6 separate regions of the Homo sapiens genome follow, and regions 1, 3, 4, 5 and 6 are each linked to region 2. Evidence: fine-mapped expression QTL. A gene starts in region 2. Each other region holds a variant in brackets. All regions are shown on one strand. Distances are between the middles of the regions.

Region 1 (4,094 bases), 28 kb before region 2:
AACAGCCTAGAAACCGCCCCTGCTGCCTATAGTCTAGTGGGACACAGTACATGGAGAAGCAGGGATTTGAACCATGGCCTGCTGATTCCCAGGGGCTCTCCCCTTCATCATGCTGCCCCTGGGATGGCTAAAGAGCCTCCCTTCCCTCCTCCCTGGCCTTTCCTGCTTCCTCCCTGCACGGGAGGAGAGACACAGATGGATCAGTGATCGCAGGCAGATGGTGTGTGCCTGGCCCGTCTGGTCTGGGAAGCAGCTGTATGTTTTTGGCTTTGAACCTAGTACAGTTTCCCCTTGAGATCCTCCCTTGGACCTGACTGTTTTGGAGACAGATGACAGTGTCTCTCTCCTGAGCTGAAATCTGAGCAGACACCCGGCTGCCTCAGGTTGTTGGAGTGCTCTGGACTGGAGCTGAGTTCCATGGTGGCCCTACTGGTCCTTAGCTGCGTATCCCTGGACAAAGAGCTTAGCCACCCTGATCCTCAGTTTCCACTGCTTTGAAACGGGGGGTAACATCTGCCGTGCCTTCCATAGGACCAGATGAGATGAGGGTGTGAAAACGGTCAGGAAACTTACAAGGCTGGGAGGCAAAGAAACACAGAAGGGTCACTGAAGACCCCAGCCAGGGACTCAAAGGCGCTGAGAGGCTGGATGACCACTGCACTTTGGTGACGATGACAGAAACCCAGCGGGAACCAGTCGGGGCAGATGGGGCCACGTGATGAGCCGTGTGAAGGAGTGGCGAGGGGCTGTGGCCCTGGGCTGATGGGGTTCAAGACTTGGCTCTGAAAGAAGAACAAATTTGTTCCCTTTTATTGCCATTAATTGTCAAAGTCAAATTGTATTTTATACTAAGGTCATTTGGCTGGATTTTTTTCTTTAAAGAATTTTTTTAAAAAAACTTCTTGCTTTGAAATTCTGATAAATTTACAAGACATGCAAAGAAATATACAGGGAGGTCCTGGTCCCTCCACCCCTCCTCCCCCATGGTAACATCTCACACGGTTACGACATGACATCAAAACCGGGAAGGTGACGCTGGCAATCTCCATGGAGCATACTCATCTGTGTCCCACTCTGCACGGGTGTGTGTGTGCGTGCGTGTGTGTGTGTCTTTGCACGTGTGTGTAGCTCTGTGATCTTGCTGCATGAGCAACCATCACCATCAAAAGATCCTGACTGCACTGTCACCTCCTCCTCACTAGGTGGTTTTATTACCCACGTGTGGATGGAATATGAGGAAGACGGGAGTATGTGGCAATCTCCCCACGGCCTCACAGCTGGAAACTGGCGGGGCAGGTTGTTGGGACATCAGAGCCCCACCTCCCGTTCTCCCACTCTTCCAGGAACAGAAGGAGGCCAGCCCCACTTCTCTGAACCCCTGTCTGGAGTTTTCTCTCTTGCAGCACAAGTTCTCCTGTATTGAGGAAGCAATTTCTCAGTTGCGGCCACCTCTCTAACCACCTGGGGACGGTTCCACAGCCACAGGGAGCAGGGGTGGCCAGAGGCTGAGAGGACTCTGTCCCTCCTGACAGCAAACAGGGTCTCAAAGCATGGCTGCGGGATGGGCCCCTGGGTGCTTTGGGTCCCCACTGCAAGACGGGGCACCGGGACGCTGGAAACTAGTGGGCAAGCCTGTGGGCCCCTCCAGGCCTGCTGGAGACAAAGCACCTCCCGCCATCCAAGGACCCTGAAAGCAGCTTTTTCCGTAAGGGCAAACTTAACT[A/G]AATCATCCCTTTGGGCCGGGCATGATGGCTCATGCCTATAATCCCAGCACTTTGGGAGAATGAGGTGGGAGGATTGCTTGAGCCCAGGAGTTCAAGGCCAGCCTGGGCAACAAAGTGAGACTCTGTCTCTTAAAAAAAAGAAAAAAAAATCAGGCATGGTGGTGCACAACTTCAGGTCCCAGCACAGGAGGCTGAGGTGAGAGGATCGCTTGAGCCCAGGAGGTCGAGGCTGCAGTGAGCCATGATTGTGCCACTGCACTCCAGCCTGGATGCCAAAGCAAGACCCTGTCTCAGAAAAATAATAATAATAATAATAATAATAATCCCTTTGGACTTTGGTTATTCGGATGTGGCCACATTCCCTCCCAGGTTGCTTTCCATCTGAGTTGCCAGTATAAGCTCGCACCCTGAGCCTTTTTTCTAGAACATTCTCACAGATATCAGTAAGTTGGTCCAAAGAGAAGGCAGGTGGGTTCATTTCAGGTGACTGTCTTTCAGGACAAACCTGATCTTACAGCCCCCACAGAGGTTCTTCCCGTGCAGACACCTGGAGTAGGAGCCTGAGTGAAAAGGAGCCCAGCCCCCAAAACATCCTTCCTGCAGGCCCCTGTGAGCTGCCTGAAGTTCCACCATTACAGAACCATCTTTTGTTGACAGCTGCGAGGCCTGTTAGACTGTGGACTTCTCTGGGAGAGGCTGCTGTAATCTAAGCCGTTAGGGAATCCCGCCCTTCAGTTTACGTTCTGGAGTGAAGCCACACAGGTGCGTCGCTGATCATGGCCACCGAGGTAAGAGGTAGGAGAGGGTCATACTGGGATCTGGGCCTCCAGTCGAGATGAGGAGTCAGGGCGGCCTTCCCAGAGGAGGCAACGTTTGAGCAAAGTTTCTGAGTATGAGTTTCTGTGGCTGCTGTTAACAAATGCCCACACACCAAGTGGTTTGAAACAACAGTCATGCATTCACACTGTTCTGGAGGCCAGAAAGCCAAAACCAAGGTGTTGACACGGCTGGGTCATTCCGGAGGCTCTAAGGGAGAATCCAACCCGTGCCTCTCTCCGGGCTTCGAGGGAGAATCTGCCCGGCGCCTCTCTCCCGGCTTCCGATGGCAGCCGGCCACTTCAGTACTCCCGGCCTTGAGGATGTGCCTCTCCCATCTCTGCAGCGTCTTCCCGTGGCCTTTGCCTCTGTCTCCGTGTCCCAGATTTCCCTCTGATTTCTCTTTGAAGGACACCTGTCATTGGATTTAGGGCCCTCTTAAGTCCAGGATAATCTCCTCTTGAGACCTTTAACTTCATCCCATCTGCAAAGTCCCTATTTCCAAATGAGGTCACATCCGCAGGTTCTGGGGGTTAGGACATGGGCATTCTGGGGAGACGTCATTGAACCCCCAGCAGGGAGCAAGCGGCTAGGTCAGGAGAGGGAAGAGGGGTAAAGGCATTCCAGGCAGAGGGAAGAACATTGAAAAAGGCATGGAGAAGAGAAGTTCAAGGACCTCCAAGCAGGTGGGCATGGCCAGGGAAAGGGGGCACCCAAGAGTGAGAGGATGTGGGGCTAGAAAGCTAAGCAGGTGCCAGCCGGTTCACACGCTGAGTTTGAACTTGACCCTGTTGACCTAAAGGAAAAAAAAAAAACAACGGAGGAAAAAATGACTTAATTACTTAGTTAAATTAAGTAGAGAGTTTATTTGGGCCAAGCTTGAGGATTTCAACCTGAGAGTATGGACTCAAGCTGCTCTGAATATAAAGTCCACTCAGCAGCAGTTACAAGTAGGTTTTTAAAGGAAAAAAGGAAAGGCAGTTCCCAAGCTGTTTACCAAGAATTTATATGAAAATAATAGAAACTATTGCTTGGCTAGGCATTGTTCTTTGTGTCACAAATTCCCAGAACATGAAGATAGCGGGTGAGGCAGCAAGTCAGGAACAAAATGCCTTTAACTACCCCTAGGCCTGGGGGTGACGGCATGACTGAGGTCCCACACTCTCGTCTTTCCGAGCCTGATGAATTCTGCACATCCCAGGAAGCTCAGACTCCAAGCCATTTCTTTTTTCTCACCCCTGAAAATAATGTGGAGATGCTGAAAGTTTTACCTGGGTCATTATGTCACCGACTCTCCCCACACCCCTGAGAGGTGGGAATTATGGCCCCATTCACAAATGGAGACTGAGGCCCAGGGAGGTGAAGTCACTTGCCCAAGAGCGGATCCTTGGAGAAATGGCAGGGGTGGGATTGGAGCTCAGGCCTCATCTAACTGCATGAGTGGGAAGATGGAGGCAGCAGGGTTCTGGGTGTCTGTGGCAGGCAGAGGTGGGTTATCCAGGAGAAAGGAAGGAAGCAAGGCTTTTGGGACTGGGTGCCAGGCCCACCGTCCCA
Region 2 (4,000 bases):
CAAGCACTTCTGGTTTCTCTACGTCTTCCCCACAGCTTTGTAAAAAGTCTGTTTCTCAAACTCTCCTCAAATTACTATTTCCTACTGGGACCCTGACTCCTACGGGTAGGTAGTGACATCCCCATTTTATGGATGAGTAAACTGAGGTGGAGAGAGGTGAAGAAAATTGCCCAAGGTCGGAAAGGAACATTCCTGGGATTCAAATCTGGACTCACTCACATCAGAGGTTTGCTGTTACCATTATTCCTGCACCTTTGTTGAAACTGGGGAGTGGGGCCAGGCTGATACCGTAGCCTTTGTTTCCTTGAAAGAGGAAGATGCAGGAGATACAAGAAGGGGCACTGGAACTGCCCTGCAGGTTTTCGTGGCCTGGAGTCAACCCTCGGGAGCAATTGAGGTAGGTGGCAAATATTTGCTCAAAAGGGGTGGCTGAATTTCGTGGACAAATGCAGAGGGCACCTCCTGTAGCCCGTGAGTAACTTCCCTGTAGAGATGAGGAAGCCAGCGGAAAGGCGGGTGGCACGGACTTCCCCAGAGCTCCCCCTCTGCTAAGTGGTGGGTCTAGTTACGGATCTAGTCCTACCTGAAGCCAAAGAAAGCCCTGGAACTTCAAAGCACCCACTTGGCTGCTGGCAACTGTCTACACTGCGTATGGACTCACATACTTTGGGAGCCATTTGAGCCCAGCACCTTCTGATGATGAAGAGGAGGAGGATGGTGTCATGGGGACACCAGCACATTCTCTACTCCAAGCCCTGCTCGAGACCTTCCTGTACAGCACTGTCCGCTGGGGCCTCTCCATGTCACTGTGAAGGAGGCGCTATCGTGGTGGCCATTCTGCAGAGCAGTAAACCAAGGCGCTAAAAATATAAGAAACCTGCTCAGGTCCCACGACGAGCAAGAGCGGCGCTCATCCTGCAGACGAGGACAGGGGCCCTGACCATCCGAGACCATGCAGGCGCCAAAGGCAGCAGGGCTCTCAGTCGCTCCTGTTCCTGGACTCACTCCCAGGGCCCTGGAGGTGGGGGTCTTAGCCTTCTGCTGCTCCCCGCTCAATGACAGGCTAGGTTGCCGAGGCTCAGAAAGGCCACGTGACCCGTCCAGAGTGCACAGCCGCAGGTGTGAGTCTGACTGAGCTCCAGCCACCTCGCTCCCGGCGCCTTAGAGCCGCCCACCCTGGGTTCCTCAAGAGGATCACCTGGGGCTCGTTAAAAACCCAGCTCCCGGCGGCTCCAAACCGTGACTGGGCAGGGAGGGGTCTGGGAATCCGGATTTTAAACCAGCATTTGCTCCTCCACCTCCCCCACTCCAGGTGATTCTTAGGATCTGTAAGTTTGGGAAACAGCCCAAGCCCTGAGGCGACGCAGCCTCTCCCTGGGCCTTTCATGGCCAGCCGGCGCTGTCCCCAGAGCCCCTGGGGTCCCAGGCGAGCTCGCGGGGCGGGGCCGGGTGAGCCGGCACCTCCCTGTGCGCAGCCCCGCCCCAGGGGCGGGGCCTCACCTGCCGCGGGCAGGTAGACAGCTACCTGGTAACCGGGTCCGGCCCAGGAGGCTTGGGCGCGCGCAGCCATCCCGGGCCTCGCCGGGGACCTAGGGACGCAGGCAACGCCTGCGCCCGCTCACCATGGTCGAGGGACGCGTCTCCGAGTTCCTGAAGAAACTCGGCTTCTCGGGCGGGGGCCGCCAGTACCAGGCGCTGGAGAAGGACGAAGAGGAAGCCTTGGTGAGTCCCCGCGACTCCGCGCCGGGCGTGCGACCCGACCCCCCATCCCCTCCGTCGTAACCGTCCCCGGCCCGAGACCCCGCGTTCGCGCTGCGATCCGCGAACTCGCCCTCCTCCCCTGGCTCTGGAAAGAAGCTGTCCTCACAGCAACCGCGCTCTCATCTGCGCTCTGGCGCGGGGAGCTCAGCATGGAACCCTCACGTGAACCCATTTTGTGGTTGAGAAACTGAGGCCGAGAGTGGTTAAGTATATTCCCTAAGGGGCACGGAGCTAGGAAGTGACCTGGCTGGGAACTTAACCTAGGTTTCTCTGACTCCAGAGAATTAAAATTCCTGGGTCTCCAGACTTGGGCTGCTTTATGGATTTTTAAAACTTAAATTGGAAAATAAAATTAGAGGGATGCAAAAAACAAAAGATTGCTGAAATGTTGTAGCAATAATAGAAAGCAAAGTTGGAGCTGAGGGACCTCCCAGCCTCACTTCCTACAGTCAGGTACTTTTAGAAAGTCACTCAGAGCTGTATGCCTGCTTTGCAACCTTCAGGGACCCTCTGGGATAAAGCAGCAGGGTGCCAGGGCAGGGCGGTTCATGAGGGAACGAAGTGGCAAAGCTGTCAAATAAAGCCCCTCCTGTTCCTTGGATTCTTGGAAGCCAGGGGTGAAGCCAGGCTTGAGGGTGACCCAACACCCTTCTTTTTAGCTTCGCAAACAGAACTCGTTGCATGCTTTAAGGTCAGGGGGGCACTGAATTTCTGCAGAAGCGTTTCTCTGCACGCCAGAGGGTCGTTGCACTTTTTTTTTTTTCATTTACGCTTAAGCAGTCGTTCAAAAGTAACATTTCTGAACGAGTCCCCTGGGTTGCTAATTAGAAATATGACTTGGCGATGGCCTTTTGACCAGTGAAAGGAAACTTCAAAGGTAAACTTACCTTTTAATTAAAAAAAGAAATTAGCTGAAAAAATATTTGACTTAAAATTTTATTTTTTTCTCCCAAAGAATACTAATGGTCAAAACATTTTGTTTGTGAGATTAAGTATTCGTGCTTTTTTAAAAATAGTGTTTTGTGCTTTTTTAAAAATAGTGTTTTATACATCCCTGTTGATGTAAGAATTCTGGTCTTAGGGTGGTAGGCCACAGGACCACGTAACTAGCAGTTTTTGAGCAATCTCGATTTTTCTGAAGTGGCATGTTAATATTGATAGGATATAGAGTTCAATTAATTGGCTGTGATCCATTTCTCTGCTTCTGCGATACATTCTGCTAAAGGAGTTTGAAGTTTATTTGCCATCACAGGTTGCCTTTCCTATGTTGCCATTCCTGTTTTTTCCTTTCCATCTTTTGATTCTTGCATCAGGCCAGGTATTTTTCAAACTCTCCTGGTGTGTAGTTGGTTACCATCAGGTTTCACAGGATGTCCAGGAATGCAGGTGCATGGATGATGTAACCTCAAGGGAGATGCTGGGAGAGTTTGATCTCTGTGCCAGGTGGACTCGTCCCTCCAAAGCTTTGCAGGAGAGTTCTCAGAGGTCTGACAGGTGTTCAGCCGGTCTGTCAGTGTGCTCTCCCACCTGGCTGTGGACCGGGGTGCTCTCAGCAGCATCCTGAGGCCCTGGGTGCGTGATGATGGGCAGTGTGCAGCGCCAGGAGGCGGGTGATACCAGCACTGACACCAAAGGCCAGCTGAGAAAGAAGCCATGCTGTCTCCAGAGGCAGCCTTGTGCAAACCCAGGAAATGTGCAAACCCAGGAAATGGCAATGAAGATCGATGGGAAGTGTGAGGAGGGAGGGAGGTGGGGAGGCCGGGTGGCTGGGCGAGGCACTCACTTCCTGCCAGGTTGGCTCAGACCTGAACACCTCCTTTGCTGTCATACTCATGTCCTCTCGTTGGAACTCCTTTCTCCCAGGGTTTGGAAAGGAGGCGATGTGTGTTGAGGTGATCACTTCTACAATAGTTGGAATTGTCTTTTTTTTTTTTTGCGTTATTTCATACTAGTTTATTTAGGGGTTCCATTTTCACTCCTCAATAGAACCGTCTTTTATGAGCACTAATTACATGCCACATCCAGGATGCCTGTAGGAGGCCTCTAAGCCCTCCCCTCCCCCAGCCACTTTGACCAGTTACCCCAGTTCTAATAGTGATTGTTACTGAGAACTTGCTGTGTCTTCTCTTGGGCCTCTTACCTCCAAGGTAAATTTTACTCTCGTCATGTGATCAATGAGGATGTGAGGCTCCTAGTGGGGCCACGTTTGTTTGCTCAGTGAGCATTTCCTGACAGCCAG
Region 3 (4,088 bases), 95 kb after region 2:
GCAGAGCTCACCAGGGGCCGGCTCTGTCTTCAGGGCCCTTCTGTCCTCACAGGAAGGGACTCTAACGTGGGTGATGTGACGGATGCACAGAAACCCCTAGGAAGAGGCCTGTCACTCAAGAGTAGTAGGGTCTGGGGCCCAAGGGGCACCGGCATCCCAGGCGTCGGGCTGGAGGCTCAGAGCACGTGCAGGGAGGAAGGAGGGAGCAAGGCCTGTACTCAGCCTGGGAGGTACCCCAGCTGGGGAGCCTGGACTTGACCCTGGGGCCAGTAATGTGACTTAGAGATCTGGTCACCTGAAGGCAGGGAGCTGGGCTGTCTTCCAGTTTTGGCTGAAAGGGACATGATTCAGTCACCGTGGTTTTCCAAGGGCACACGCCCTGGTGTGGAGCCCAGGGGACTCCCCGACATTGTCAGCCAAGCGAGTGTGGCACCTTTCTCTGAAGCTGCGGTTATGGCAGGCATGGGGCAAGGGGAGGGAGCCAGGGACAAGTCATCGACCCCACCCTTTTCCCCAGTGTGCTGAGAGCCAACCCCAACCCGGAATAGAGGACGAGGGAGGCCAGTGAGGCAGCCCCCATGGGCCCACCGCCTCCCCGCCGGCAGGGCCCAGAGTGGGTCATGGCTCAGATCTGGAGGGTCATGGGATTATGCATCAGACCTGAGGCTGCAGTGACAACGGTCCTATGACCTCCAGGCAAGACTGGGATGGTCAACTCTGCCTTGTCCTCCAAAAAGCAGTGTCAGTGTGGGTCACCAGTGAATGCCCTGTAGGAACAGACAAGAGGACCCCCCAAAACACTCTGCTCACTGGCTGTTTCCACCCGCCGGGAAGGAAGTCGGCTTCCCACGCCTGAAGGGGTTGTGCTTGGGCAGCCCGTACATCAGGAATCATCAACAGGGAGCCAGGGATGGTTCCTCAAAACAGCATGTGACAGGAGCAGAGGGAGACGCTGGGAATTCATCCCAGGGAACATGTCGCTGGGAATTCATCCCAGGGAACATGTCGGGGTGCACTGGACAGGGAGCCCAGACTGGTCACTCAGGACATTTGCAAGCAGCAGGGCACTGGGACAGCTGCTGTAGGGAAAGGAAACTCATTCCCCTTCCAGCCCGAGTCCATAACATGCTCCCAGCTGCCTGCCAGACCCACCCTGTGCTCTGGAGCTGCCTGGTGTTTGCCTGGAACCACAGGCAGGCCCTTCTGGAACTGCAGCATTTTGGATTCTGGGTTAGGAAGATCTCCCTGCCTTCAGGGGAATGAAAAGGGCTGGTCCTCCGCACCTCTCACTTTATCAGGAGGACTGGCAGGGAAGGCGCTTCCTGCCGGCGCAACAGAGCTGCAGCCCGTCCTGAATCTTTTCTGTTTTCTCCCTTGGCAGATTTGCTGTTTTTAACTGGATTGGCCTCATCCGTCTTCATTTTGTCAGAGCTCCTCAAACTATGTGAAAAATACTGTTGCAGCCCCAAGAGAGTCCAGATGCACCCTGAAGATGTGTAGTGGACCGCACTCCGCGGCACCTTCCCTAATCATCTCGATCTGGTTGTGACTGTGGCCCCTGCCGTGTCTCCTCGTCAGGGGAGACTTTTAGGAGGCCGCAGCCTTCCATCACCGGATCAGTTTTTCCTCTTAGGAAAGCTGCAGGAACCTCGTGGGCTCCAGGGACCCAGGCCCACATCCATCCAGCGTTCCCGCTGGCTGTGGGACAGACAGGGAGGGGCCTGTACAGAAACACCACACT[G/A]TTTATTAAATCACAATGATTTTTATTAACCATGTCTAACTACGTATCTGTGCCACAGCTTGCAGTGAGGCAGGCCACTCGTGGCAGATACAAGGGGCTCCTGAGAGGCAGTGGGTAGGATGGTCACACTCTGCCCATTGCCCTCCTGGAGGCCCCATTTCCTCATCATAAAATGAGGGACTTTTAAATAAAGTGCTATGCCGGGGGATAATTATTTTGATGTGTTTACCTAGGGTTTTTCATACAAGGGGCCAGGTTGGAAACCCACAGCCATGTGTTAATGGCCACGTGGGGTGAGCAGCAATCCATCATGAATGGCCTACAGGAAGGCCTCGGCTTTTGGACATAAAGAGTAGGGCTGGGCATGGTGGCTCACGCCTGTAATCCCAGCACTTTGCAAGGCCAAGGCAGGCAGATCACTTGAGGCCAGCCTGGCCAACACAGCAAAACCCTGTCTGTCTCTACTAAAAGTTTAAAAAAAAAAAAAAAAACAGTTGCCAGGCGTGATGATGCACACCTGTTAATCCCAGCTACTCGGGAGGCTGAGGCAGGAGAATGGCTTGAGTCCAGGAGGTGGAGATTGTACCACTGCACTGCAGCATGGGCAACAAAGCAAGAGTCTCTCTCAGAAAGTGGCCCTTCTCTCCGGAACCAGGAACTGTAGTATCTCCTGCTGCCTGCAGACAAGCTTGATTTCCCACTGCCCCAAAGACTTCCAAAAACCGATCTGCTCTTCCACGTGACAGATGGCAGAGGAGAGAGGTCTCCATGCTGTTCTTCTGCCTGAAGCCACGCCAGAACCACCAAAGGGAACCAGAAGGGGAACTCCGTCCCCATCTCTCAGGAAATAAGGCCAGAGCTAGAACCCCCCATTTACTAGTCAGGCCTCACTAGAGAAACAGAACCAACAGGATGGAGGGAGATGCAGAGATTTGTTTTAAGGAACTGGCTCATAGGATGTTGGGGGCTGGCAAGTCTAACATCTTGAGGGCAGGCCAGCATCCTGGAGACCCAGGGAAGAGCTGGGGATGCAGGCTGGAGGCAGAATTTCCTCCTCCTCAAGGGAGTTCAGCCTTTTCCTCTTATAGTCCTCAACTGATCGGATGAGGCCCACTCACGTTATGAAGGATAAACTGTTTGTTTTACTTCAAGTCTACGGGCTTACATGTTAGTTACACAGCGCCATCTAGACCAGTGTTTGTTTGACGAAAATCAACTTGGCCTGGCCAAGTTGTCAGATAAAAGTACCCGTTGCACCCAGCCACGGTAGCTATGAAAAGGGCTACCAGGGGTGGTAACAGCTGGGTCAGACGAAGATAAGGAAGGTCAGAGTGGACCCCTGCCAGGGTTCCAGGCAGAGTCCAAAGTCCTCCATAGTAGGATTCACAGCCTGGGAAGAAGCCCCTCTCTGGCTACAACCTGTGACACCAGGGCCACAGGAGGAGATGCAGCGATGGGCCATTCCTAGTGAGACACAGACACAGGGCTGGCTGGAGAAGAAACCTTTTGAGCTGTGGGGCTGTCTTCCTAGAAGCTGCCAACCCCTGGAACCACTAAGAGGTCAAGGCTGAAGTGTGCCACTTCCACAGTCTGCTAAGGAGTGCCTCCCCCTGAGTCAGGGACAATTCTTGCTCTACTTTTCAGGATCCTTGGGCACACTGCTGGCCCGAGACATTTACTTCCCATTTAAAATTAAGTAATCAAAATACCAGGGTCGATTACTCTGAACTCTTGCTTATGTAAACTTTAGGGATAAAACTGTAGTAAGACACAAAATGCTAACAATAAAATATAAATTAGACTACATTAAAACTAAGACCTTCTTTTCATTAAGGACACAGTAGACTTGAACACCACCATTAAGCAACTTAGCTTGATTTACACTTGTAGAACACCCCATTCACGAGTAGCATAGAAACAGTCACCAAAATAAAGAGCAGAAATCAAACGAAAAAGCAAAAATAGAGGAAAATCAATCAAAACCTAGTTTTTCGAAGAGATCAATAAAACTATCAGTCTTGCAATAAGCTTATCAAAGAAAAAAGGGAAGAGAAATGACCAATGTCAGGAATGAAAAAGTATATCACCACAAACCCTTCAAGATATTCCAACAATAATAATAAATAATACTATGTACATCTTTATGTACCTAAATTCAATCAATTGGATGAAATAAACCAATTGCTTGAAAACCAAAAACTACCAAAACTCACTGAAGATTAAATAGATAAGCTGAAGTTGAAACCCTTCCAAAAAAGGCAGTTTCTGAAGCCAGATGATTTCACTGGTGAATTTTACTAAACTTGTAAAGAAATGGCAATTCGATACACTGAATTCCAAAAATAAA
Region 4 (4,094 bases), 120 kb after region 2:
GTTCCTACATCAAAATCCTTTCTGGTTTGATATTTGTGTTACTTTTGAAATACCAGTCATTTTTGTCCCAGGTAAAATACGGTAGTAAAAGATTTAAAATGATTTTTTTAAAGAGCTCAATGGTTAAAGTCAGCTTAATTAAAAGCTAATCAAGATGTGTGTGTGTGTGTGTGTGTGTGTGTGTGTGTGTGTGTGTATTTAAAGGGACATAATGCCTTTTTGTCTCTCCTAGGGTCTTGTTTTTAGAAAAAAGAAGATTTATTTCCTTCTCAATCAACTGAATTTTTTTCTCCATTTGCTTCTGCGTGTCTCTCCTTCCTCTTGCTACCCTCCGCTGTATGAAGGACCTAAAATAATGTCTAAGAGTCTGGGATTCCTTAAAGAAAACAGAGAAGGTGCCACACTCGTTTCTGAGAGAAATTTGTTTCTTTACAGAACCCCAAAGTTATAAACAGACCAGTTCCTCTCAGCTCTTAAGCTGCTTTTCTACTGTGTTACCTGATTTTTGTCTAAAAAAGTTATTACTACACAGCTACTCTTTAATGAAACCAAAAGTTGGTTCATTGAAAAGATCAACAAAAATATGAAGAATCTTTAGCTACACTGACAGAAAAAAGGGAGACAATTCAAATTATTTAAATCAAAAACAGAAGTAGGGGGCTGGGCGTGGTGGCTCACGCCTGTAATCCCTCCACTTTGGGAGGCCAAGGCGAGTGGATTACTTGAGGTCAGGAGTTCGAGACCAGTCTGGCCAACGTGGTGAAACTGTATCTCTAAAAATACAAAAATTAACTTTGGGAGGCCAAGGTGGGCAGATCATTTGAGGTTAGGAGGTCGCGACCAGCCTGGCCAACATGATGAGACCCCCGTCTCTACTAAAAATACAAAAATTAACCAGGTATGGTGACACACACCTGTAATCCTACCTACTTGGGATGCTGAGGCAGGAGAATCGCTTGAGCCTGGGAGGCAGAGGTTGTAGTGAGCTGAGGTTGTGCCACTGCACTCCAGACTGGGCAACGGAGCGAGACCCTGTCTTAAAAAAAAAAAAAAAAACGTCTGGGCACGGTGACTCACGCCTATAATCCCAGCACTTTGGGAGGCCGAGGCAGGTGGATCACGAGGTCAGGAGATCAAGGCCATACTGGCTAACATGGTGAAACCCCATCTCTACTAAAAGTACAAAAAATTACCTGGGCGTGGTGGCGTGCACCTGTAGTCCCAGCCACTTGGGAAGCTAAGGCAGGAGAATGACGTGAACCCAGGAGGCGGAGCTTGCAGTGACTGAGATCGCGCCACTGCACTCCAGCCTCGGTGAAGGCGCAAGACTCCGTCTCAAAAAAAAAAAAAAGAAAAGAAAAAAGAAAACAGATTTAAATTTTTTTAAATTAAGGTTATCATATCCATGTAACATTTTGTATTGTTTTTAAAGTCCTTTTGCTGTTAAGTTACAGGGCTGTGATTCCTAGGGCTAAAAGAGACTTGAATCCTGCTAAATCTTCAACACTGAAAACAATTAAAGCCTCATTTTGAGACCCAGGAAAAGATGGCAATCAAACTGTGTTCACGAGACACAGGGCCTGAAATTTAAAATATTTAACCCCTCTAGGCCCAGGGACTATTGTGGAAGAGGTGGATGTATGAGATTGTAAGGGCCGATTTTGAGAGAGAAAATTAGTTCAGAGGTTCTCTGTAAATTAAATATTAATATCAAACATACACTGATCCAACACCAGCATCTGGGTCCTTGTGTCAGATTAACAAGGTTTTCTTGGAGCATAACCCACCTTTTCATTTAAAGAATTATAAAAGGTTATAAAAAGGTTTATACAAATTACATCTTATGGTCAAGATGATTAAAATTTAATAGATTTGTTTATAAGACTTCACAGAGATTTAAGTGGCCTCATACTGTCTTTATTAGGGCTTATTGTTTGGGAAATTAAGTCTCCTCTCTCAAAAAAATAAAGGTTTTTACCCTTTTTTTCAAAACCTTTGAGTTAGCACTTTGGCTAAATGACTTATTTTACAATGACCTGTGATCTTATTTTGTGATATCAAGTGTTTTATTTTATTTATTTATTTATTTATTTATTTTTGGAGATGAAGTCTGACTCTGTCACCCAGGCTAGAGTGCAGTGGCACAATCTTGGCTCACTGCAACCTCCACCTCTCGAGTTCAAGCGATTCTCCTGCCTTGGCCTCCCGAGTAGCTGGGACTACAGGTGTGTGCCACCACGCCTGGCCAATTTTTGTATTTTTGGTAGAGACAGGGTTTCACCATGTTAG[C/T]GAGGCTGGTCTTGAACTCTTGACCTCAGATAATCCACCCACCTTGGCCTCCCAAAGTGCTGGCATTACAGGCGTCAGCCACTACGCCCAGCCTATATCAAGTGTTTTAAACTTCTGATATTTGACAAACTTTCCAGAATCAAATTCAAAATTCAGTCCTTTTGACCTCAATTATTGTTTTGATATTAGGTCCCTTGAGCTCCAAGGGAGACATATTGGGCTTACTTGGTATAATACAATCATACAGGAAGCACTGTCAAATATGAAATGGTGTTTAACCATCTTTGGACCACATTTATGTAAGTGTGTTATTAGTATGTGTTCCAAAATTCTATGAGATTCCTGTGATTCTGATGTGTCTTAGTATATGTTATCAGTAGTAATTACTATTATGTAAAGTTGTTGTATGCCAGAGAAGTACCCAAATTTCCTTGTCAATTGTGTCTTTAACCATGGCTGTTCTAAGACTTTTGACATCCACAATTGTTTTACTTTGATCCTTTTATAGGGCAGTTTATAGTCAGCTATAGAACTCTGAAGAGTACTCTTAAATATCGGTTCCGATAACTTCAGAGATTGTGCTGTTGGAATAGAAAGGAAAACTTCTAGGACTCATAGGGGGCTGACGTATTCATGAGGATTGCCGATCCAATATCAAGCAAGCAAGAAGTTAATTGCGTGGACCGAACTAACAGATGACCGAAATAATCTTTTATGACATTTTGTTTACAACATTAGCTGTTTTTTTTCCAGAGTCAAGAAAACTTTCTCTTTTAAGCTATTTACAGCTTTTAACAATTAAAATATACTCTAGTGAGCAAAATTTAAAACATAATCCCTTTCTGTCTACCTAATTTCTCTAAAATTTGGAAACTATTTGTGAGTATTCTTAATTTATGGCAATATAATTATTTGCATACATTCAATAAGAATCTGTTTTCTTTTATAACAGGACATAATTGGAAACACTGGTTATTTCATGAAGGCTTTGACTGGAACAGCATTTTCAGATTACCTTGAGAAAATGAAGCTGACCTGTAGAGCTGATAAAAGCCACTGGACAAACTGGCCTCACACTGTCCTTTACAGGGTCCTGATCTGTAAGTAAAGGATGTCACTTTCTGACAGGCCCAAATACTCCAAGTTTTCTTGGGACCTCAAAGAGAGAGGAATTCACCCAAGTCACATGGGTATCTACAGGCACAGATAAATTCTTGGCTAGGCTTGGAGCTTTTAGAAAGGTCTAATCTAAAAAAATGAAATAAAATAAAATAAAATAAATAAAAATGTCTAATCTCAGACTCCTTAAGGAAAAGTTCTAGCAAAGATAATTCAAAGAGAGTCAGTGTCTATATGGCAAATTATCACTGTTGCTGCACTTTATGCAAAATAATCAAGCTAAGTATAATTAGACTACAACTTATTTTACAAATAAGTTGGTCCTACTATGATTTTGTCTTTAATGAAAGTGGGGAACTGAAGAGAGAAAAATGTTTCAAAATAAACCATAGTACACTGGTTATTGGATTCTAGCTTTGACCAGTGTCAATTTTTATTATTTTCTACAATTTGGACTGAACCCTAGAATTTTTTCCTGGCTACAAGTCTTTAAAATAACATTTCAATCTTTCTCCTTCCTTCTATTCCTTTTTTTCCCCCCATTTTTCTGATTTGAAATCATTAAAAAATAAGCTGTGCTCTTCTTAAAGCTCTGAGAACTAAAGCTAGACAACTTAAACTCTGGAGTAACAGCGACCTATTTATATACAGAACCATTTTCGTACCTGCCTGCTGATATATGGACT
Region 5 (4,105 bases), 27 kb after region 2:
GAGCAAGACTCTGCCTCAAAAACGAAAAACAAAATTCTTATTTTATTGAGGTGAAATTCACATAACAAAATCAACCATCTCACAGTAAACATTGTAATGGGATCTAGTACACTCACAATGTCGTGTGACCACCACTTCTATTCAGTTCTGAAACATTTGAAAGAAACCCTGTACCCATTAGCAGTTTCTCCCCATTCCCCCTTCCCCAGTCCCAGTCTGCTTTCTGCTCCTACGAATTTGCCTGTCCCGGGCCTTTCCTATGAGTGGACTCACATACCGTGTGGCCTTTTGTGTCTGGCTTCTTCCGCTTAGTGTGATGTCTTCCAGGTTCATCTGTGTTGTAGCAAGTGTGTTTCCCAGGGCTATGGTCACCGAGTACCAAAAATGTGGTGGCTTAAATTTAAATGTATTGTCTCACAGTTCTAGAAGCCAGAAGTCAAAACTCAAGGAGTCAGGAGGGCTGTGCTCTCTCTGGAGGCTCCAGGGGAGGATCTGTTCCACGCTTCTCTTCAAGCTTCCATCATGGCCAGCAATCCCCAGCATTCATTGACCGATGGACACGTCACTCCAGCCTCTGCCTCCATCATCACAGGGTTTTCTCCTGTGTCTCCACATGGACTTCCCTGTGTGCATGTTTATCTCTGCAAAATTCTCCTTTTTGCAAGAACATCGCTCATATTTGACCTCATCTGACCTTGATCATTTCTGTAAAGATGCCCTCCAGATAAAGTCACATTCTGGTGTACCAGGTGTTAGGCTTTCAAAGAATGGTTTTGCAGAGGCCACAGTTTAACAACATTCACGTGCGTCAGTATTGCATTCCTGTTTGAGGCTGAGTTGATGCTCCACTGTCTGGATGGACCACATTTTGCTTCTCCATAATCCGTGGATGGGCATCGGGCAGTGTCTGACTTTTGGGTCTCGTGAACTGTGCTGCTGTGAGCAGAGTCCCTGTTTCCAGTACCCTTGGTTACAGAGCTGGGAGTGTGTAGGTGGCTTTTACTCACAGAGGGAAGTCGGAGGCTGGGTCCTCTCTCCTTTGGGCTCTGGACTCTGCCCCTGCAGTCACAAAACACAGGGGAGTGAGGGAGGTCTCTGCATCCAACCCCCTCTCCCCTCCAGTGTCACTGCAGCATGGCACCCTGTCACCCCATGACTTCCTCAATCCACCTAGCTCATTCCCCAGGGACATGTGGGTGGACAGCCCTGGGCCTTCAGATGTCCAGAGCACGTGACAAAGGTTGGGGGCACATGCTAGTCCTGCCCTCAAAGGCAGGGGAATTGGTGCCTTTGATCTTTTTTTTTTTTTTGAGACAGAGTCTCACTCTGTTGCCCAGGCTGGAGTGCAGTGGCATGATCTTGGCTCATTGCAACCTCCGCCTTCCAGGTTCAAGCAATTCTCCCTGACTCTGGCTCATTGCAACCTCCGCCTTCCAGGTTCAAGCAATTCTCCCTGACTCAGCCTCCAGAGTCGCTGAGATTACAGATGCCTGCCACCATGCCTGGCTAATTTTTGTATTTTTACAAAATACCATGTTGGCCAGGCTGGTCTCGAACTCCTGACTTTAGATGATCTGCCTGCCTCAGCTTCCCAAAGTGCTGGGATTATAGGTATGAGCCACTGTGTCTGGCCCTTTTCTTCTGGATTTTTATTGTGGTAAAATATACATAACATAAAATTCACCATTTTAACCATTTTTAAGGGTATGGCTCTCTGGCATTAAGTATATTCCCATTGTTATGCAACCATCACCAATATTTGCCTCCAAAACTCTCATCTTTCCCAAAGAGACTCTGTAGTCATTAAACACTAACTCCCCAGCCCGGTTACCTCTGCTCTCCTTTCTGTCTCTGTGAGTTTGACTATTTTAGGGACCTCCTGTAACTGGAGTCCTATAGGATTTGTCCTTTCGGGTCTGGCTTATTTCACCAGGCATAACATCTTCAAGGTTCATCCATGTTGTAGCATGTGTGGGTTTTGGGCAGTCACATTGAAGGTAATTGGGCTCTTATCCTGAGAGCACTGGAATCTCTGCAAGTGTTTTCAAGCATCGGGCGTGTGTGTGTGTGTGTGTGAGATGGGATTT[A/T]TGTGTTTCGAGCCAGGTGCAGTGGCTCACGCCTGTAATCTCAGCACTTTTGGAGGCTGAGGCAGGCAGATCACCTGAGGTCAGAAATTTGAGACCAGCCTGGCCAACCTGGTGAAAACCCGTCTCTACTAAAAATACAAAAACAAATTAGTGAGGCGTGGCGGTGCGTGCCTGTAGTCCCAGCTACTGGGGAGGGTGAGGCAGGAGACTCGCTTGAACCCGGGAGGAGGAGGTTGTAGTGAGCCGAGGTCGCACCACTGCACTCCAGCCTGGGTGACAGAGTGAGGCTCTATCTCAAAAAAAAAAAAAAAAAAAAAAAGGAAAAGTGAATTCGGTGTAGTGAGTCACAAATGGCAAGGCTGAGGGCAGCTGAGTGAGTGTGGGGGATGGGGGGAGTGCCCAGCCTGCCTCCACCTGTGGTGTGCGCAAGAATCAAGCACTTTATTTGGTACGACGGGAGCAGATCTTGAGAATGGGGGGAAAAGTCTTGTGCAATCCACATTTTTCTTTGAAGTAACTCTACAAAGAATGCAATGTTGACTTAAGGAGGGCTCCCAATGGATGGCTAAGCCTGCTTAAAGATCTGCGTAATCGCTGCTGTGCTCCTGGGCACTGGGCATGAGTGAGAAGCAGCCGCATGAAACCGAGGTGGGTAGCACAGCTTTTCTAAGCAAATAGGCATTTGGGAGGAGATGGTTTGGGGTTGGGGAGGGCGGCTGTCAAGAAGGAAGAGTGGGATTTGCAATCTCTATTACAGCTAAAGGAGGAAGTTACTCAATACCTCTCCTGCTTCCTTTTTCCCAGTTTCCAGTAACCTGGTGGAAAAGGAAAAGATGATTATCACATCCTGGGTATCAGGATGCTAGGAATGGTTTTGCAAAAATACCTCACACTTTTCCGCTTCTGAGGTCTCCTTTGTATTAGCAAAGCCTCCCGAAGCCTCCAGGTGTTTCACGTGGCTTCTTTCCAGGCCCGCAGGTCTCAACACAGAGTGCTGGGACTTCCAGAACTTGGTTGTGTTTCCCCTCCCCTTTTCTTTGGTTATTTAAAATGTCCCATAGAACCAGGCTGTGATACCACCTATCATCAGTAGGAGGCACTCTCTGCAATATGGTGCATACTTGATGGAGAATCCTGGAAGTTCGAGGTTCAGGATTCTACATATGTATATTGTTGCCCTACTCTGTCCACTTACAAGTTTCAATTCTGTAAAATAAGTTCGCTCAGCCTGGGCAACATAGGGAGACCCTGTCCCTACAAAATATTAAAAAATTAGCCAGGCACAATAGCATGCACCTGTGGTCCTGCTATTCAGGAGGCTGAAGCAGGAGGATCACCTGAGCCTGGGAGGTTGAGGCTGCAGTGAGCTATGATTGCACCACTGCACTCCAGCCTGGGTGACAAAAAAAAAAAAAAAAAACTTGCTTAAAAATAGATGCATCAGTATTAGCCAACAACTAACAACTGGAACCCAGATATTCATCAACAGGAGAACAAATACAATGTGATCTACTCATACAGTGGAATACTAAGCTGCTGTGAAAATTAGCGTACTGTTGCTACATGCATTCTCACTTGTATAAATCTCACTAACAATGTTGAGTGAAAGAAATCAGACAAGAAAGCATGTATGAGTGTATACTGCATGGCACCATTTCCATAAAGTTCAAACCCTGGCCAACCTAATCTATGAGGATTGAAACCATGACAGCAGTTACCCCTCAGGTAGGTAGGTTGGCCAAGGGAGCATCAGGGGACCAGTCATATCTGTTTCTTAATTTGGGGGCTGGTTATAAGGGTTAGTTTGTGAGCTGTACACATATGCACACTGTGTGTGTGTGTTTTATGCTTTAAAAAAAACACATGTGGCCGGGCGCAGTGGCTCCACCTTTAATCCCAGCACTTTGGGAGGCCGAGGCAAGCGGATCACCTGAGGTCAGGAGTTTGAGACCAACCTGGCCAACATGGTGAAACCTCGTCTCTACTAAAAATACCAAAAAAATTTAGTGGGGTGTGGT
Region 6 (4,105 bases), 35 kb after region 2:
TTGCATCAATGTTTTATAGTTTTCATTGTAGAGATCTTTTACTTCTTTAAGTTAATTCCTAGATATTTAATTTGCAGCTGTGGTAAATGGGATTACTTAATTGATTTCTTTTGCAGATTGCTTTCTCTTAGCATATAGCAATGCTACTGATCTTTATCATTTGAGTTTGTATCCTCTAACTTTACTGATTTTGTTTATGAGTTCTAATAGCTTTAGGTGGAGTCTTTAGGTTTTTTCAGATATAAGATCATATCATCTGCAAACAAGAATAATTTGACTTCTTCCTTTCCAATTTGGATGCCCTTTATTTTTTACTCTTGTCTGATTGCTCTAGCTAGAACTTACAGTATTCTGTTGAATAGTAGTGGTAAAAGTGGGTATCCTACGGGAAAAGCTTTCAGTTTTTCATCATTCAATATGACACTAGCCCTGGGTCTGTCATATATGGCTTTTATTACATTGAGACATGTTCCTTCTATACCTAGTTTTTTTAGGGTTTTTATTATGAAGAGATGTTGAATTCTGTCACGTTTTTTCAGCATTAATTGAAATGATCATATGGTTTTTGTCTTTCATTCTGTTGATGTGTCACATTAATTTGTGTATGGTGAACCATCCTTGCACCCTTGGGATAAATTCCTTTTGGTCATGATGAATTTTCATTTTAATGTGTTATTGCATTCAATTTGCTTGTATTTTGCTGAGGATTTTTGCATCAATAGTCATCAGTGATATTGGCCAGTAGTTTTCTTTTTTAAATGTGTCTTTGTCTGGTTTTGGTATCAGGGTAATACTGGCCTCGTAGAATGAAAGTATTCCCTACTCATCTGTTTTTTGGAATTATTTAGTAGGATTGGTATCGCTTCTTCGAGTGTTTGGTAGAATTCAGCAGTGAAGCCACTGGGTCCTGGGCTTTTCCTAACCGGAAGACTTTTTATTATGGCTTTGATCTTATTACTTGTTATTGGTCTATTCAGCTTTTGGATTTCTTCATGGTTCCATCTTGGTAGGTTCTGTGTGTCTAGGAATTTATCCATTTCTTCTATATTTTCCAATTTATTGGCATATAGTTGCTCCTGGTAGCCACTAATGGCCCTTTGACTTTCTGTGATATAATTTGTGAAGTTTCCTTTTTCATTTCTGTTTGTATTTATTTGGTTCTTCTCTCTTTTTTTCTTAGCCTGGCTAAAGGTTTGTCAGTTTTGTTTACCTTTAAAAAAAAATACTCTTGTTTCTTAAGACAGGCCTATTTAAAAAAATGTCTGATATGTGGTAAATACACAACATAAAATTTACCATCTTAACCTTGTTATTTTTTCCAAGACATGGTCTCATTCTGTTGCCCAGGCTCGAGTCCAGTGCTGCAATCAAGGGCCAGTGCAGCCTCCACCTCCTGGGCTTAAGCAATCGTCCTGCCTCAGCCTCCTGAGTAGCTGAGACTACAGGAGTCTGCCACCACAATGGGCTAATTTTTAAAATTTTTTTGTAGAGCCAAGATCATGCTATATTGCCCAGACTAGCCTTGAACTCCTGGGTTCAAGCAATCTCCCCACCTCAACCTCCTGAAGTTTTGGGATTACAGGTATGAGTCACTGTGCCTGGCCTTAACCATTTTGAAGTGTACATTGTAGTTGCATTAAGTATAGTCACACTGTTGCACAACCATCGCCATTCTCTATCTCCAGAATTCTTTTTTTTTTTCTTGAGATGGAGTTTCCTTCTTGT[T/C]GCCCAGGCTGGAGTGCAATGGCGCGATCTCAGCTCACTGCAACCTCCGCCTCCCAGCTTCAAGCGATTCTCCTGCCTCAGCCTCCTGAGTGGCTGGGATTACAGGCACATGCCACCACGCCCGGCTAATTCTTGTATTTTTAGTAGAGACGGGCTTTTGCCATGTTGACAAGGCTGCTCTCGAACTCCCGACCTCAGGTGATCTGCCTGCCTTGGCCTCCCAAAGCGCTGGGATTACAAGCCTGAGCCACCAAGCCCTACCAGTTTATTATAAAGGCAAAGGATACCGATGAAGAGACGCATAGGGCAGGTAATGGGGGAAGGGGCGCAGGGCTTCCATGCCCAATGCTGCTATGAACATGGTTGTTCAAACATCTCCCTGGATGCCACTCTCCAGGAATATCCCCACGTTCAGGTACGTGAAAACTCACTGAATCCTATCTTTGGGTTTTTAGGGAAGCTTCATGACATCATTCCTTCCCCCAGATTATAGGGTGGGACCCTCTCATGGGAGGGTCTTAAGACCCACAGTCAGCAAAGCGGGTTACATTAGCATCTCCAGTATTCTTTTCATCTTGTAAAACTGAATCTGTCTCCATTAAACACTCACTCCCCATTCCCTCTCCCTCCAGCCTCTGACACCCACCATTCTACTTTCTGTCTCTATGAATTTGACTAGTCTATGTAATTCATATGTGGAATCAACAGAATTTGTCTTTTTGTGACTGGTTTATTTCACTTAACTTCATCCTCAAGGTTCAACTTAAAGGTGTATCCATGTTGTAGCACGTGTCAGCATTTTCTTTCGTTCTCAGGCTAAATAGTATTTCATTGTGTGTGTACACCATGTTTCATGCATTCATTCATCCCTTGAAAGATTGGTGGGTTGTTTCCTCCTTTTTGCTTTTGTGAACAGTGCTACGAACATGGTTGTACAAACATCTCTTGGAGCCCCACTAGCAGTTCCTTTGGGTATATACCCCAAAGTGGAATTGCTGGATCTGGTAGCTCCCTTTTTAATTTTTTGAGGAATCGCCACACAGTTTCCATAACAGCTGCACCATTTTACATTCCCAAGACCTTTTTTTTTTTTTTTTTTTTAAGAAGAAAAGATGTGTTTCTGCATTTCTGGAAGTCTATGCTGCATTTCCATTTGTTGAAATTTAAGACCAGAGTCGTCTTTTCTGCTGTAATTATAATGGTCACTGGCTTGTGCCTTTTCCTCCTCTCTCTGCCCCATCTGCACGGGGTCTTTGAACAAGTCCCAGCACCTTGGTGGACAAGCCTGTGTCCCTGGCCCATCATGGAAGCCGCTGCCTTTCAGAGTGGGAGTCTGTACCCTGTTGCCTCATTCCTTGCTGCGCCCATGAGTGAGCTTGTGCCTGACCTCTCCTTCCAGGTGGACTTACACACTGGGCTGTCGGAGTTCTCGGTGACGCAGCGCCGGCTGGCCCATGGCTGGAATGAGTTTGTTGCTGACAACAGCGAACCTGTGTGGAAGAAATACCTGGATCAGGTAGGACCAGAGGTGTCATTCTTTGCATTAACATGCATAAGCCAGCGAGGGTGGGGCAGCCATTCCATCTTTCAATGTTGATGGAAGGCATCCTTGGACAGCTCCCGCCCCTTTCACGCTGCCCCAGCCAGCCTGAGCATCAGTCATGAGCAAATCACCAACTCCCAGGCAACCGCGATCAGGAAAAACAGTGATCACTTTCGTAGACAGTTGAGCAGGCCCCGGGCCCCACGCTATATGAGTAAGTGAATAAGTAAGCATGCGCTTACTAATCCTCCTCCTAATCCCGCCTTTGCACATGAGGAAGGAGAAGTGCAGAGGTTGAAAGATTTCCCCAGAGTTGCCAGGTTTAGCAAATAACAATATAGGATGCCCTGTTAAATTTCAATTTCAGGCTGGGCGTGGTGGCTCGTGCCTGTAATCCAAGCACTTTGGGCGGCTGAAGCGGGTGGATCACTTGAGCCCAGGAGTTCAAGACCAGCCCGGCCAACATGGCGAAACCCCGTCTCTTCTAAAAATATAAAAATTAGCCGGATGTGGTAGTGGATGCCTGTAATCCCAGCTACTGAGGAGGCTGAGGTGGGAGGATTGTTGGAACCCAGGAGGTGGAGGCTGCAGTGAACTGAGATTGTGCCACTGTGCTCCAGCCTGGACAACAGAGTGAGACCTTGTCTCCACAACAACAACAAAACCAAAGTGAATTTCAGATAGATAAACAAGAAGCAATTTCTAGTATAAGTGTGTCCCAATACAGTGGACGTGCTTATACTAAAAACAAAAAGTTCCTTGTTTTTCTGAAATTTAGATTTTACTGGGTGTCCTACTGTAACCTGAGCCCAAAGTCACATAGCTGTGAGGAGCAGT

Direction of the effects. Positions count from the first base shown, and alleles are read on the strand shown. Sizes are in standard deviations (SD) of each study's normalised expression. Not every link is listed here.
In carriers of allele C in region 4, the expression in prefrontal cortex of the gene that starts at base 1,546 in region 2 tends to be lower than with T alone (large effect, 1.1 SD a copy in CommonMind).

Evidence for each region.
Region 1: its variant is fine-mapped to the expression of ATP2C2 in esophagus mucosa (GTEx, PIP 0.96).
Region 3: its variant is fine-mapped to the expression of ATP2C2 in lung (TOPMed, PIP 0.96).
Region 4: its variant is fine-mapped to the expression of ATP2C2 in prefrontal cortex (CommonMind, PIP 0.95).
Region 5: its variant is fine-mapped to the expression of ATP2C2 in lung (TOPMed, PIP above 0.99).
Region 6: its variant is fine-mapped to the expression of ATP2C2 in cerebral cortex (GTEx, PIP above 0.99). The same link has a PIP of 0.9 or more in anterior cingulate cortex.

Annotation. Positions count from the first base shown.
Region 1 is chr16:84,339,260-84,343,353 of GRCh38, forward strand. No RefSeq gene overlaps it. Among named protein-coding and RNA genes, the nearest start is that of ATP2C2, 27 kb to the right of the region's middle. The variant A/G (reference allele first, on the strand shown) is at 1,724.
Region 2 is chr16:84,366,993-84,370,992 of GRCh38, forward strand. ATP2C2 (ATPase secretory pathway Ca2+ transporting 2) reads left to right here and starts at 1,546. Exons shown (of 27, transcript NM_014861.4): 1 at 1,546-1,722. The coding sequence starts at 1,624.
Region 3 is chr16:84,462,233-84,466,320 of GRCh38, forward strand. ATP2C2 (ATPase secretory pathway Ca2+ transporting 2) reads left to right here. Exons shown (of 27, transcript NM_014861.4): 27 at 1,382-1,955. The coding sequence ends at 1,500. It overlaps ATP2C2-AS1 (ATP2C2 antisense RNA 1), which reads right to left. Exons shown (of 3, transcript NR_146503.1): 2 at 1-767. Among named protein-coding and RNA genes, the nearest start is that of ATP2C2-AS1, 3.1 kb to the right of the region's middle. The variant G/A (reference allele first, on the strand shown) is at 1,742.
Region 4 is chr16:84,490,500-84,494,593 of GRCh38, forward strand. All of the region lies in intron 3 of MEAK7 (MTOR associated protein MEAK7), which reads right to left. Among named protein-coding and RNA genes, the nearest start is that of MEAK7, 12 kb to the right of the region's middle. The variant C/T (reference allele first, on the strand shown) is at 2,290.
Region 5 is chr16:84,394,167-84,398,271 of GRCh38, forward strand. The region is part of intron 1 of ATP2C2 (ATPase secretory pathway Ca2+ transporting 2); the gene reads left to right. Among named protein-coding and RNA genes, the nearest start is that of ATP2C2, 28 kb to the left of the region's middle. The variant A/T (reference allele first, on the strand shown) is at 2,088.
Region 6 is chr16:84,402,004-84,406,108 of GRCh38, forward strand. It overlaps ATP2C2 (ATPase secretory pathway Ca2+ transporting 2), which reads left to right. Exons shown (of 27, transcript NM_014861.4): 3 at 3,125-3,241. Among named protein-coding and RNA genes, the nearest start is that of ATP2C2, 36 kb to the left of the region's middle. The variant T/C (reference allele first, on the strand shown) is at 1,726.